Linked DNA regions of Homo sapiens: regions 1, 2 and 4 are each linked to region 3. The links come from fine-mapping of genetic effects on gene expression. A gene starts in region 3. Each other region holds a variant in brackets. All regions are shown on one strand. Distances are from middle to middle. Region 1 overlaps EYA3 (EYA transcriptional coactivator and phosphatase 3). Region 2 overlaps EYA3 (EYA transcriptional coactivator and phosphatase 3). Region 3 holds the start of EYA3 (EYA transcriptional coactivator and phosphatase 3). Region 4 overlaps EYA3 (EYA transcriptional coactivator and phosphatase 3).

Region 1 (2,687 bases), 26 kb after region 3:
GTTGTTTTTTATATACGTGTATGCACACATTATTTGAAATTGAAAGCAACGTCTCAATGGATTTGAAACTATTAAAGGCTATTGTCTAAAACGTGAAAAATGTATAACTAAAAATAAATGCACATATTAATATTTAAAGTGCATAATTAAGAAAACCTATTGGTGTTTTGTTTTTCTTGTATACCAATAATTAAGCCACTACTGTTGACACTATTTGGCTTTCTGTTTTAACATTGAATGAGTGAAAGTACTTCTTATATTTATGAATTTGCTGCTAAAATCTTGGCCAAAAAAAAAAAATTGTCTAAAATGTGTGGGTGAAAAATGTTAATCATGTATGTTTCTACCTTCCCCCCCAAAGTTGGACACCAACTATATACCGTAGGTTGCTTAAGGTGATTTCACTATTGTTAAATCAATAAGATAAAAATGAAATAGTTGTGTATATGCAACATTGTGTACAGAGGAGATAATGAATAGTATTAAACGTTCTCATCTTCCTTTACCTTTTGTTCCCTAATACCTATTCTACCTTTTAAAATTTCAGACTTCACTGCTCTTTGAATTCATAATTCAAATTTGCACATTATTATTATTGGAAAATCATATCTAATAAAGGTTTTAGGCCGGATGTGGTGGCTCACACCTGTAATCCCAGCACTTTGAGAGGCCGAGGCTGGTGGATCACTTGAGGCCAGGAGTCTGGGACCATCCTGGCCAACATGGCAAAACCCCATCGCTACAAAAATTAACCAGGTGTGGTGGCGCACACCTGTAATCCCAGCTACCTGGGAGGCTGAGGCATGAGAATTGCTTAAACTGGGGAGGTGGAAGTTGCGGTGAGCCGAGATTACGCCGCTGTGCTCCAGCCTGGGTGACAGAGCAAGATGCTGTCTCCAAAAAAAAAAAAAAAAAAAAAGGTTTTAGTTATTTCCCCCCCCAAAAAAAATTAAAAATAAAAAAAAATATATATATATATAAGGCACTTTGGAAAGTGTAGTAAATAAACTTAAAATACAATGTAGTCAGTGAGCAAATCTATGGACTACCTTTTTTCTATGTGGGACTGTGTCATAGATATCCAGTTAACTCCTGAATATCTCTGTACATACTTAGCTGCATGCAAATTCTCTTTCTAGGACCTATAAATCAGACTTTGCCTTACTTAGACACTTCTTTTGAAGTTGTAATTAAGAGTGATATATGCCTTGTTTTCATGGAAAACAATTTGACCTTTATTCTGTGCTTTTTTTTTTTTTTTTTGAGATGGAGCGTTAGT[CAGTT/T]TCCTGTCGCCCAGCCTGGAGTGCAGTGGTGCAATCTCGGCTCACTGCAACCTCCGCCTTCTGAGTTTAAGCAGTTTTCCTCCCTCAGCCTCCTGAGTAGCAGGAATTACAGGCGCGTGCCACCACGCCAGATTAATTTTTTGTATTTTTAAGAGAGACAGAGTTTGACCATGTTGGCCAGGCTAGTTTGAAACTCCTGACCTCAAGTGATCCGCCTGCTTTGGCCTTCTAAAGTGCTGGGATTACAGGTGTGAGCCACTGCACCCAGCCTATTCTGTGCTTTTAAACAAACAGAACACACACACACACACACACACACACACACACACACCTACATATATTTAATTTCTCTTCCTAAGCCTAAGAGCTTTAATAACACATTGAAGCAACCTAATTTCTTGCTTATGGCCATTTACATTTACAGGGTACATAGTATGTTGAACTTGGGACAAAACAGAAACTATGAGGTAGGAATCTAATTTGAATTTTGAAATAAAATATTTGTTACTAATTATTTCCCTTCTAACTTCTAAAGAGTAAAAATAAAATTTATGGCTGCCATATTACAGAAAGATCCTGCTTTTATTTTTAAGCATGCAAAATCTCAATAGTATTCAAAATTGTGTGGCTCTTGAATCAAACCAAAGTTTCTATTTTTTCACTGTCAGCATTCACAGGTAGAGAAGTGTAAAGTCTTAGGAAATACTATTTCTATTCTCAATTTAAAATTTTCTCAGAATTCTGTCCATGAAGGCAAATGAATACTGACAAGCTCTATTTCCAAAAAAGGTGATAAAACAAGTGTATTTAGAAACCAGTAGTAAGAATTGAAATTAGAAAATTGTGAAAAGACATTACTTTCCAAATGTTCTAAAGGTACTTAAAAGATTAACTCGGGGCATGTCTTGTAATTTCATCAGCTGTTTGACTAAGTTTTAATTTATTTTAATTACATTAAAAATCCACTTTTCACTTCTGTGTTACAACTGTTGTATTACTTGATATTTTAAAAGATGAATCTCACTGAATGTAAAATAATGTCAGGTTACATTAATGGTAAAAACAAACAAACAAACAAAAAAAAACCGTTGACCGGGCGCGGTGGCTCACACCTGTAATGCCAGCACTTTGGGAGGCTGAGGTGGGCGGATCACGAGGTCAGGAGATCGAGATCATCCTGGCTAACACGGTGAAACCGCGTCTCTACTAAAAATACAAAAAATTAGCCGGGCGTGGTGGCGGGCGCCTGTAGTCCCAACTATTCAGGAGGCTGAGGCAGGAGAATGGCGTGAACCTGGGAGGCGGAGCTTGCAGTGAGCTGAGATCGCGCCACTGCACTCCAGCCTGGGCGACAGAGCGAGACTCCATCTCAAAAAACAAAAGACAAAAAAAAAAAACACGTTA
Region 2 (2,687 bases), 71 kb after region 3:
ACCCTGAGGAAGAAGCACTGGATGAAGAATTGGGAGATCCAAGTTGTCATTTTGGTTATCTTCCATTATTTTTGCTGCTGTGGACAAGTTACTTTAATTCTTCTTTGTCCTAGGTTCTTCATCTTAAAGCTGGGGTTGCAGCAATAGCTGTAACTGAACTTACTGTCTTCTGGATTGTCTTCTAAGCCGAGTACCCTTAGGGAAAGGGATGAAAATTATCTAATTTTGACCAGAGCACTTAAGTTTCTATTGCATTTGTTCTCCTGCCCTGTTCTCAATGGAAGTTTTCTTACTAATTTTCTCTCTGGGGGACTTTGTTAATGGGGCAGGTAGTCAGTTAGTCAGGTCTACCTGATGGTGAACCCATATGGTGTGTGTACCTGCAGTAGGAACCATGTCTAAGTGTGTTTATGATAAATGAGGACAAGGAGTTTGAGAACAGTACTGATAATATCAGTTACATTGTTCACCTGAGAAAAGTCACTGGTTAGTGCTAGTCATTGAGATTTTGATTAAAACCCTAGTAGAATGAACCTATGACAGAAGAAGTATAAAACTTAACCCAAATTACTTGTCTTTATTTTTATTGTTTTATGTGAATGGAAATCAGCATTTTCTTTCTTTTTTTTCTTTTTTCTTTTCTTTTTTTTTGAGACAGAGTCTTGCTCTGTCACCCAGGCTGTAGTGCAGTCATGCGATTTTGGCTCATTGCAACCTCCACTTCCTGAGTTCAAGCGATTCTCATGTCTCAGCCTCCTGAGTAACTGGGATTACAGGCCCGTGCCCACCATACCCAGTTCATTTTTATATTTTTAGTAGAGATGGGGTTTCACCACGTTGGCAAGGCTGGTCTCAAACTCCTGGCCTCAAATGATCTGCCTGCCTCGGCCTCCGAAAGTGCTGGGATACAGGCATGAGCCACCACACCTGGCCTCAAATTACTTAAGACAGCCCAAGTATCATATAAGGTACATTTTTATCTGACCAGAGTAATATTTAATATTTTCTGAGTTTTTCCAGGCTCATTGTTAAAGTCTCTAAATGCTATGTCATTGTGTTTATTGATCCACATTAGTAATCTATTATTTGAGTAGAACTCAAGAAGCAATTCTAAATGCTTTGGAATTTGGAGGACCAGCTCTATTTCTCATGTAATTATGTTGTATTAGGAAAGGCGTAACTTGGGGCAAGTGACAGCAAACAATATCACAGTGTAAGATTTACCAGAGTTCTACTGCTTTACAGTAGGTCACATTGCAGGTGAGTCATTTTTCAGCCTCTGGAGAAGATGGGCTGGAGGAATTGGATTTAGCTGTGATTTCATTGATATTATTAGTATGAGCTGTGAATTGAATATATATCCTTTTAGGCCTTTAATAAGAAGAATTGAAGACTCAAGTTGAAACAGAAAGATGTTTCAAATGTTTTGTTTTTAACCAAGTGTAAATGTAGCTATCCCA[C/T]ACAAAAAAGCAAAACGAGTGTTTGTTTCCTTTGCCAATGTTGTTTATCTCCTTATAAATCTGTTCACTTAAAACACATCTATTTTCAGTTTCTTCTAACCTTTTACATAATATCTTTAATATCTTTTAACCCCATCAATCCTCTAGCTTCAAGCACAAATGCCAGCCTGATATCTACTTCTTCTACAATTGCCAATATTCCAGCAGCAGCAGTAGCCAGCATCTCAAACCAGGTATGATGCTACCTTTGTTCATCCTGTTTGATAGAGTTCATCCAGCTTGCTCTTTCTTCTTTCCATGGTCAATTTGCCTATCTAAGAAACAACCAGGAATAGTATGGGCTGTGGAGACTTTTTTCTGGATACCTTCAGAACTCGGACCCTGGATGGCATCTTAGGTTACTGTCTAGTTTTTGTTGTTCCTCTGCTGGGTCTCTCTAGAATATGGTTATGTCTGTTTCTTTACTGTATTTGTCTTCACTTCCTACTCTGCCCCTACTAGAATGTAAGCTGCATGAAGGTAGGGATTTATTTTTCTGTTTTGTTCATTTACATATTCCCAGAGTATAGAAAAATGCCTGCCACTTACATCAAAGGCACTTGATAAATATTTATGGAATGAACAACTCATTCTTTATGAATTTTTTGTGGTCTATTCTTGATCACTGTTATGTTAACTATGCTTAGGAGATCACTGGTAACACCTTCAGTGTTCTAGAGTTTTTTATTTTTGTTTTGATTTGTTTTCTCTACAGCAATTATCATCACCACTGTCTCCTTGGATCTTTTCCTGGCTACAGTTAACATTACTATTCTGGTTATTATACTGGTTTTGCTTTTTTTTTTTTTTTTTTTAAGATGGAGTCTCACTCACTCTGTCGCCCAGGCTGGAGTACAGTGGTGCGATCTTGGCTCACTGCAACCTCTGCCTCTCAGGTTCAAGTGATTATCCTGCCTCAGCCTCCTGAGTAGCTGGAACTATAGTCATGTGCCACCATGCCCAGCTAATTTTTGTGTTTTTAGTAGAGATGAGGTTTCACATGTTGGCCAGGCTGGTCTCAAACTCCTGACTTAGAGTGAACCGCACCCGCCTTGGCCTCCCAAAGTGCTGGGATTACAGGTGTGAGCCACCGCGCCCAGCCTTGTTTATTCTTTTAGTCCACAAATATTTATTGAGTTCCCACCTGTGTACCTGGTATTTTTCTAAGGACTGTCTCTTTCTCTCTCA
Region 3 (2,687 bases):
TTTTTTTGTTGTTGTTTTGCTTTGTTTGTTTTGTAGAGACAGGGTCTAATTTTGTTGCCCAGGTGATCTCCAACTCCGGGGCTCAAGCAACCGGTCGACCTCGGCGTCCCAAAGTGCTAGGATTTCAGGCATGAGCCACTGTGCCTGGCCTTGATTATTTTAAAGAGGGCCCCCAAATTGAATAAACGTCAAGTCTCCACAAAGCCTGAATTCAACCTTGCTTCTAGCCCATACTTGGGTTGTAATTTAAAATTAACGAAACATTTAAGAATTTTGCTTCCGAAAACAGTGTGCACGAAGTGAATTGTAAGCCTAATATAATATTAAGAATAAACTAAATTTGGGGATAAAAAGATCACCTTGGGGCTCACGCCTGTAATCCCAGCACTTTGGGAGGCCAAGGGATCAACCGAGCTCCAGAGTTGGAGACCAGCCTGGGCAACATGGCGAAACCCCGTCTCTACCGAAAAATACAAAAATTAGCCGGGCGTGGTGGTGCGCGCCGGTAGTCTTAGCTACTCGGGAGGCTGAGGTGGGAGGATCACTTGAACCCAGGAGGCGGGGGTTGCAGTGAGCCGAGATCGCGCCACTGCACTCCAGCCTGGGCGACAGAGCAAGACTCTGTCTCAAAAAAAGAAAAAAAAAAAGGGATGGGCGCGGTGGCTCACGCCTGTAATCTCAGCACTTTGGGAGGCCCAGGCGGGCGGATCACCTGAGGTCGGGAGTTCAAGACCAGCCTGACCAACATGGAGAAACCCCGTCTCTACTAAAACTACAAAATTAGCCGGGCGTGGTGGCACATGCCTGTAATCCCAGCTACTCGAAAGGCTGAGGCAGGAGGATCGCTTGAACCCGGGAGGCGGAGGTTGCAGTGAGCCGAGATCGCGCCATTGCACTCCAGCCTGGGCAACAAGAGCGAAACTCCGTCTCAAAAAAAAAAAAAAAAAAAGATCACCTTGGGCTAGCCTCCCAAATGTCTTCCAAAACTTCCCACTCATTCTCCTTCCCAGTTTTTCTAAATCTACCAAATGCACCCAACACTTCTTACGTTCCTTTTAGCCAGGTAGGGATTACGCGCATTTTTAAAGACCTCCTTAAAAGTGAAGGCTGTAGTACCGTCAGGACTGCCTAGCGCTCACCCAGAAGCTGCTTGTCTCCGAGGCACTAAGAGGGGCGTGGCCATGGGCGTGGCTCGCCGGGCCGGCGGAGTGGGCGGAGCCTAAAAGCTTCCCCGCCCGGTCAGACTCAACACATGCGCCCAGAGGTTTCTAGTGGAACGAGGTGTGGATTGTGAGGTGACTCTGGCCGCTTACTTCCGGTTCCTAGCGATGCGCATCCGGGTCACGCTAACGCCGCGGTTTCCTCCGCTCGATTGGTTCTACTGTGGGTCTGGACTGATCTCCATGTCCTGTTGTGGGGCTTTTACAGCCTTTGGGTGAGTCTCAGCTGCCAACAGGGTCTGAGCGCAGCCGGGCGAGCACAGCGTGAAGGGGGATGGGTCTAGAGTTCTGCCTCGGTCCTTGTGGGTGGGAGTCTCTTCGCCTGTCCCTTGTCACTGCAGTGCTTCACTCACCTCAGCCCTTTCCTTCACGCTGGCCTCGCCTTATTCACCTCAGCTTAGCCTTCTCGCGCTTCCGTGCCTCTGTCGCCTCGCTGTTTTTCCTCAGCCTCATCAGTCCTTTTCCAACCTCGGTTTCTTGCCTTACGCCTCAGCGCTTCTCTCAGCCACTGCCTCTCCTTTTTTCTCCTCCTCCCTTCTTTTAGAACCTCTTTTCCCCTACCCCTGATCTGGGATCTCAGCGTTCTTTCACCTAGCGAGACGGCCCAGCTTCTCATTGTGCTCACTCTTCACCACGAGAAACTGAGCCTCTCCCTAGGGTCCTAGTTCCTTGTCCCCCAACTTTCTTCAGCTTTGATCCTTCCTCCTGGGACCAGTAGGTGACAGTGCTTCTCCTGGGGTTCTTCTGCCTGTCCTTAGCTAGAGGAGAGCTTTGCCAAAGCCCCGAAATGGGAAGACTTCCCCAGCCTGGGGGAAGTTTTGCCTTAAGGCGCCGGGTTAGACTGAACTCTGGTAGCTTCCATAGTTAGGGTACAACAAAGGCGTTCCTAGTTCTTCGCTTTACCTCAGTTTTGGGGCTCTCTCAAGAGCAGCTAACAGGTGGCAGGCACACGGTACTGCTAGCAGTTGGGCTGGCGCGATCTTGTTAATTGACAAGTCATGAAGAAGTTCTGTCAGTTTTGTGTTCCCATGAGAATGGATGTGCACAGCTGAGGCAAAAACGCCAATATTTTGGGACGTTCAGCTCTGTTTTCGGCATGGACGCTTCTTACAGGACACTTGTGATGATAGAGGACAGAATTTGTGGAGAGATCATTAGCCCCAGATTTATGAATTTATTGTGTTGTTTCCGAAAAGTGGTCTGCTGAAGAGTTCACTATAGTAATTTCAAAGTAATCTTTAAACTTAGTATGCACATATGCATTTTTTCATTTTTACTGTATTAAGTTTTCTATTTGTCTTCCTCTTCCTTCATTAGCCAGACTTTACTTAGAATTACATTACTTAGAAGTACATTACTTAGAATATTCTTCTAACTTTTGTATTTTTTTTTCCTTACCATTTCCACCTTTGTAGTAAAACTATCATTTTCTCATTTTGAGATTTAGGGCACCTTTCTTAAATTTCC
Region 4 (2,687 bases), 66 kb after region 3:
AGTCCGTTGTTTATTCAGATTTCCTGTGTTTTTATATGATGTCCTTGTTCTGTTCCGGGATTCCATCCAGGATACCAAATTACATTTAGTTATGTCTCCTTAGGCTCTTCTAGACTTTGTAGTTTCTCAGGCTTTTCCTTGCTTTTAATGACCTTGACAGTTTTGAGGAGTACTGGTCCAGGTATATTTTAAGATGCCCCACTCTTAGAGAATTTATCTGATGTTTTTCTCATTATTACGCTGGGGTTATGGATTTTAAGGAGGAAGGTCACAAAGGCAAGGTGCCATACTATCATCATTATTTATGACTGTTGATGTTGACCTTGATTACCTAATTGAAGTAGTGTTTGTCAGTTTTCTCCATAAAGTTACTCTTTCCTCCCTTTCTGTACTGTATTCTTTAGATAGAATTCACTATGTACAGCCCACAGTTAAGGAATCATGCTGCCCCTTCTTTAGGGTAGAATATCTACATAATGTATTTGGAATTCTTCTGCCCAGATTTGTCTCTTCTCCCCAGTTTGTTGATTTATTCAGTCATTTTTTTGTGGACTCCTAGATATTTAATTTATACTTTGGGTTATAATCCAATACTACTTTATTTATTTTGTTCCAGTTTGGCCACTGGGAGCTCTTTCAGTTGGCTCCTATGCCTTTTGACATACTCCCATTTTTTTAGTTTTTGGTTTTCCCCCCCCCCCCCACCCAGCACTTTCTTACTTCCTGGCACTACAAGATGCTCCAGGCTCATCTTGTATATTACTTATTCAAGTCCTATTATCAACCATTTTTTTTAAGGAATCCTGGTTCCTTTTATTGGAAAAAATGGTATTCAAAACCAAGATTTGGGCTTCCAGCCTGGGCAACAAGGCAAAACCCCATCTCTACAAAAAATATAAAAATTAGCCAAGTGCAGTGGTGCGTGCCTGTAGTCCCAGCTACTTGGGGAGGCTGAGGTGGGAGGATCGCCTGAGCCTTAGGAGGTCGAGGCCTCAGTGAGCTGTGATCGCACCACTGAACTCCAGCCTGGGTAACAGAGTGAGACCCTGTCTCAAAAAAAAGATCTGAGCTTGAGGGGTGCTAATTGCTACTGAGGTGTCAGGTGACATTTATTTTAGGCTTTCTCAGCTGACAGAGCAAACAAATATATGTAGGTATACTAACCTATGTAAATACACATATCTATAAATATTTCTGTATGTCGTAATCTGTATCTGTGTTGAGTTAAACATGAATTCTTACTGATTTCTTGAGCTCTGATCCATTATTACATAGATCATTCTAAACCCTGTCCCTTATTGATCTGAAAATCTCCACTCCAGCAATGAGAATCTTTTAGGCCGGGCGCGGTGGCTCATACCTGTAATCCCAGCACTTTGGGAGGTGGATGCAGGCAGATCACGAGGTCAGGAGATCGAGACCATCCTGGCTAACATGGTGAAATCCTGTCTCTACTAAAAATACAAAAAATTATCTGGGTGTGGTGGTGGGTGCTTGTAGTCCCAGCTACTTGGGAGGCTGAGGCAGGAGAATGGTGTGAACCCAGGAGGCGGAGCTTGCAGTGAGTCGAGAT[C/T]GCGCCACTGCACTCCAGCCTGGGCGACAGAGCGAGACTCTGTCTCAAAAAATAATAATCTTTTATTAGGAGATTTTTATTATTTTGATTTACTAAGCTCCTTGTGTGGAGCAGTGCTTGCACATAGTAGGCACTCAATAAATATTTGATAAAGGATTAAGTGAACGAATGACCCACTTAGGCAATCAGTTTTAACCAAAATATGTACAGCTTCTACTGGATCAGGAATTGTCAGTTATATTAGTCACATAATGAGAGTAAGTTTTAGGAACCCACCTGTCAGCCTTTAGCAGAAAATAATGATTTTAGGCTGGGCGCGGTGGCTCATGCCTGTAATCCCAGCACTTTGAGAGGCTGAGGTGGGCAGATCACTTGAGGTCAGGAGTTTGAGACCAGCCTGACCAACATGGTGAAACCCCGTTTCTACTAAAAATACAAAAATTAGTTGGGAGTAGTGTCAGGCACCTGTAATCCCAGCTACTCGGGGAGGCTGAGGCACGAGAATCGCCTGAACCAGGGAGGCAGAGGTTGCAGTGAGCCAAGATCATACCACTGCACTCCAGCCGGGGTGACAGAGTGAGAGTGCATCTAAAAAAAAAAAAAGAAGAATGATTTTGCCCTTCACACTTAGTGCACACAAGATAGATGTATATGAATCCCACAAATATTTATTGACCATCACCTGCTGTATGTCAGGTGCTTTGCTAGATGCTGGAGATTATAAGACAGCAGGATTCTGCCTTTTTGGAGCTTACAGACTAGTGGGGTGCGGGGGAGAAAACAAGTGAGTAAATACATAACAGATTTTGAACAGTGCTCTGAAAAAAAAATTGATCACTGTGATTAAGAAAACAGAAAAGGTCTTGGTTTTAATAGGTCAAAAAGACCCTCTTTGAGGAAGTGAGTCATGCTGAGGAGCCATCATGCTGGGAAGGCAAGGGGGTTGGAGAGAACAGTCTAGGCAGAGAGAACAATATTGCAAAAGTCCTCAAATGATAAAGAGCTTGTCCGGTTTTGAGTAACTTAAAGAAAGACAGTGTGAGCAAAGGAGGTGAAGTGACATGATCTAAAATTAGAGAGGTGGGTAAAAACTAAATCTTGCACAAACTTTTAT

What was found. PIP is the estimated chance that this variant, and not a neighbour inherited with it, causes the effect. A credible set is the group of variants that fine-mapping cannot tell apart.
Region 1: its variant is the best candidate, but not a certain one, in a credible set for the expression of EYA3 in whole blood (INTERVAL, PIP 0.70).
Region 2: its variant is the best candidate, but not a certain one, in a credible set for the expression of EYA3 in whole blood (TOPMed, PIP 0.60).
Region 4: its variant is the best candidate, but not a certain one, in a credible set for the expression of EYA3 in gastroesophageal junction (GTEx, PIP 0.59).

The regions. Positions count from the first base shown.
Region 1 is chr1:28,061,585-28,064,271 of GRCh38, reverse strand. The region is part of intron 1 of EYA3 (EYA transcriptional coactivator and phosphatase 3); the gene reads left to right. Among named protein-coding and RNA genes, the nearest start is that of EYA3, 26 kb to the left of the region's middle. The variant CAGTT/T (reference allele first, on the strand shown) is at 1,280.
Region 2 is chr1:28,016,160-28,018,846 of GRCh38, reverse strand. It overlaps EYA3 (EYA transcriptional coactivator and phosphatase 3), which reads left to right. Exons shown (of 18, transcript NM_001990.4): 8 at 1,608-1,693. Among named protein-coding and RNA genes, the nearest start is that of XKR8, 58 kb to the right of the region's middle. The variant C/T (reference allele first, on the strand shown) is at 1,461.
Region 3 is chr1:28,087,272-28,089,958 of GRCh38, reverse strand. It overlaps EYA3 (EYA transcriptional coactivator and phosphatase 3), which reads left to right and starts at 1,349. Exons shown (of 18, transcript NM_001990.4): 1 at 1,349-1,435. RefSeq lists enhancers at 1,410-1,479, 1,690-1,749.
Region 4 is chr1:28,021,099-28,023,785 of GRCh38, reverse strand. The region is part of intron 7 of EYA3 (EYA transcriptional coactivator and phosphatase 3); the gene reads left to right. Among named protein-coding and RNA genes, the nearest start is that of XKR8, 62 kb to the right of the region's middle. The variant C/T (reference allele first, on the strand shown) is at 1,574.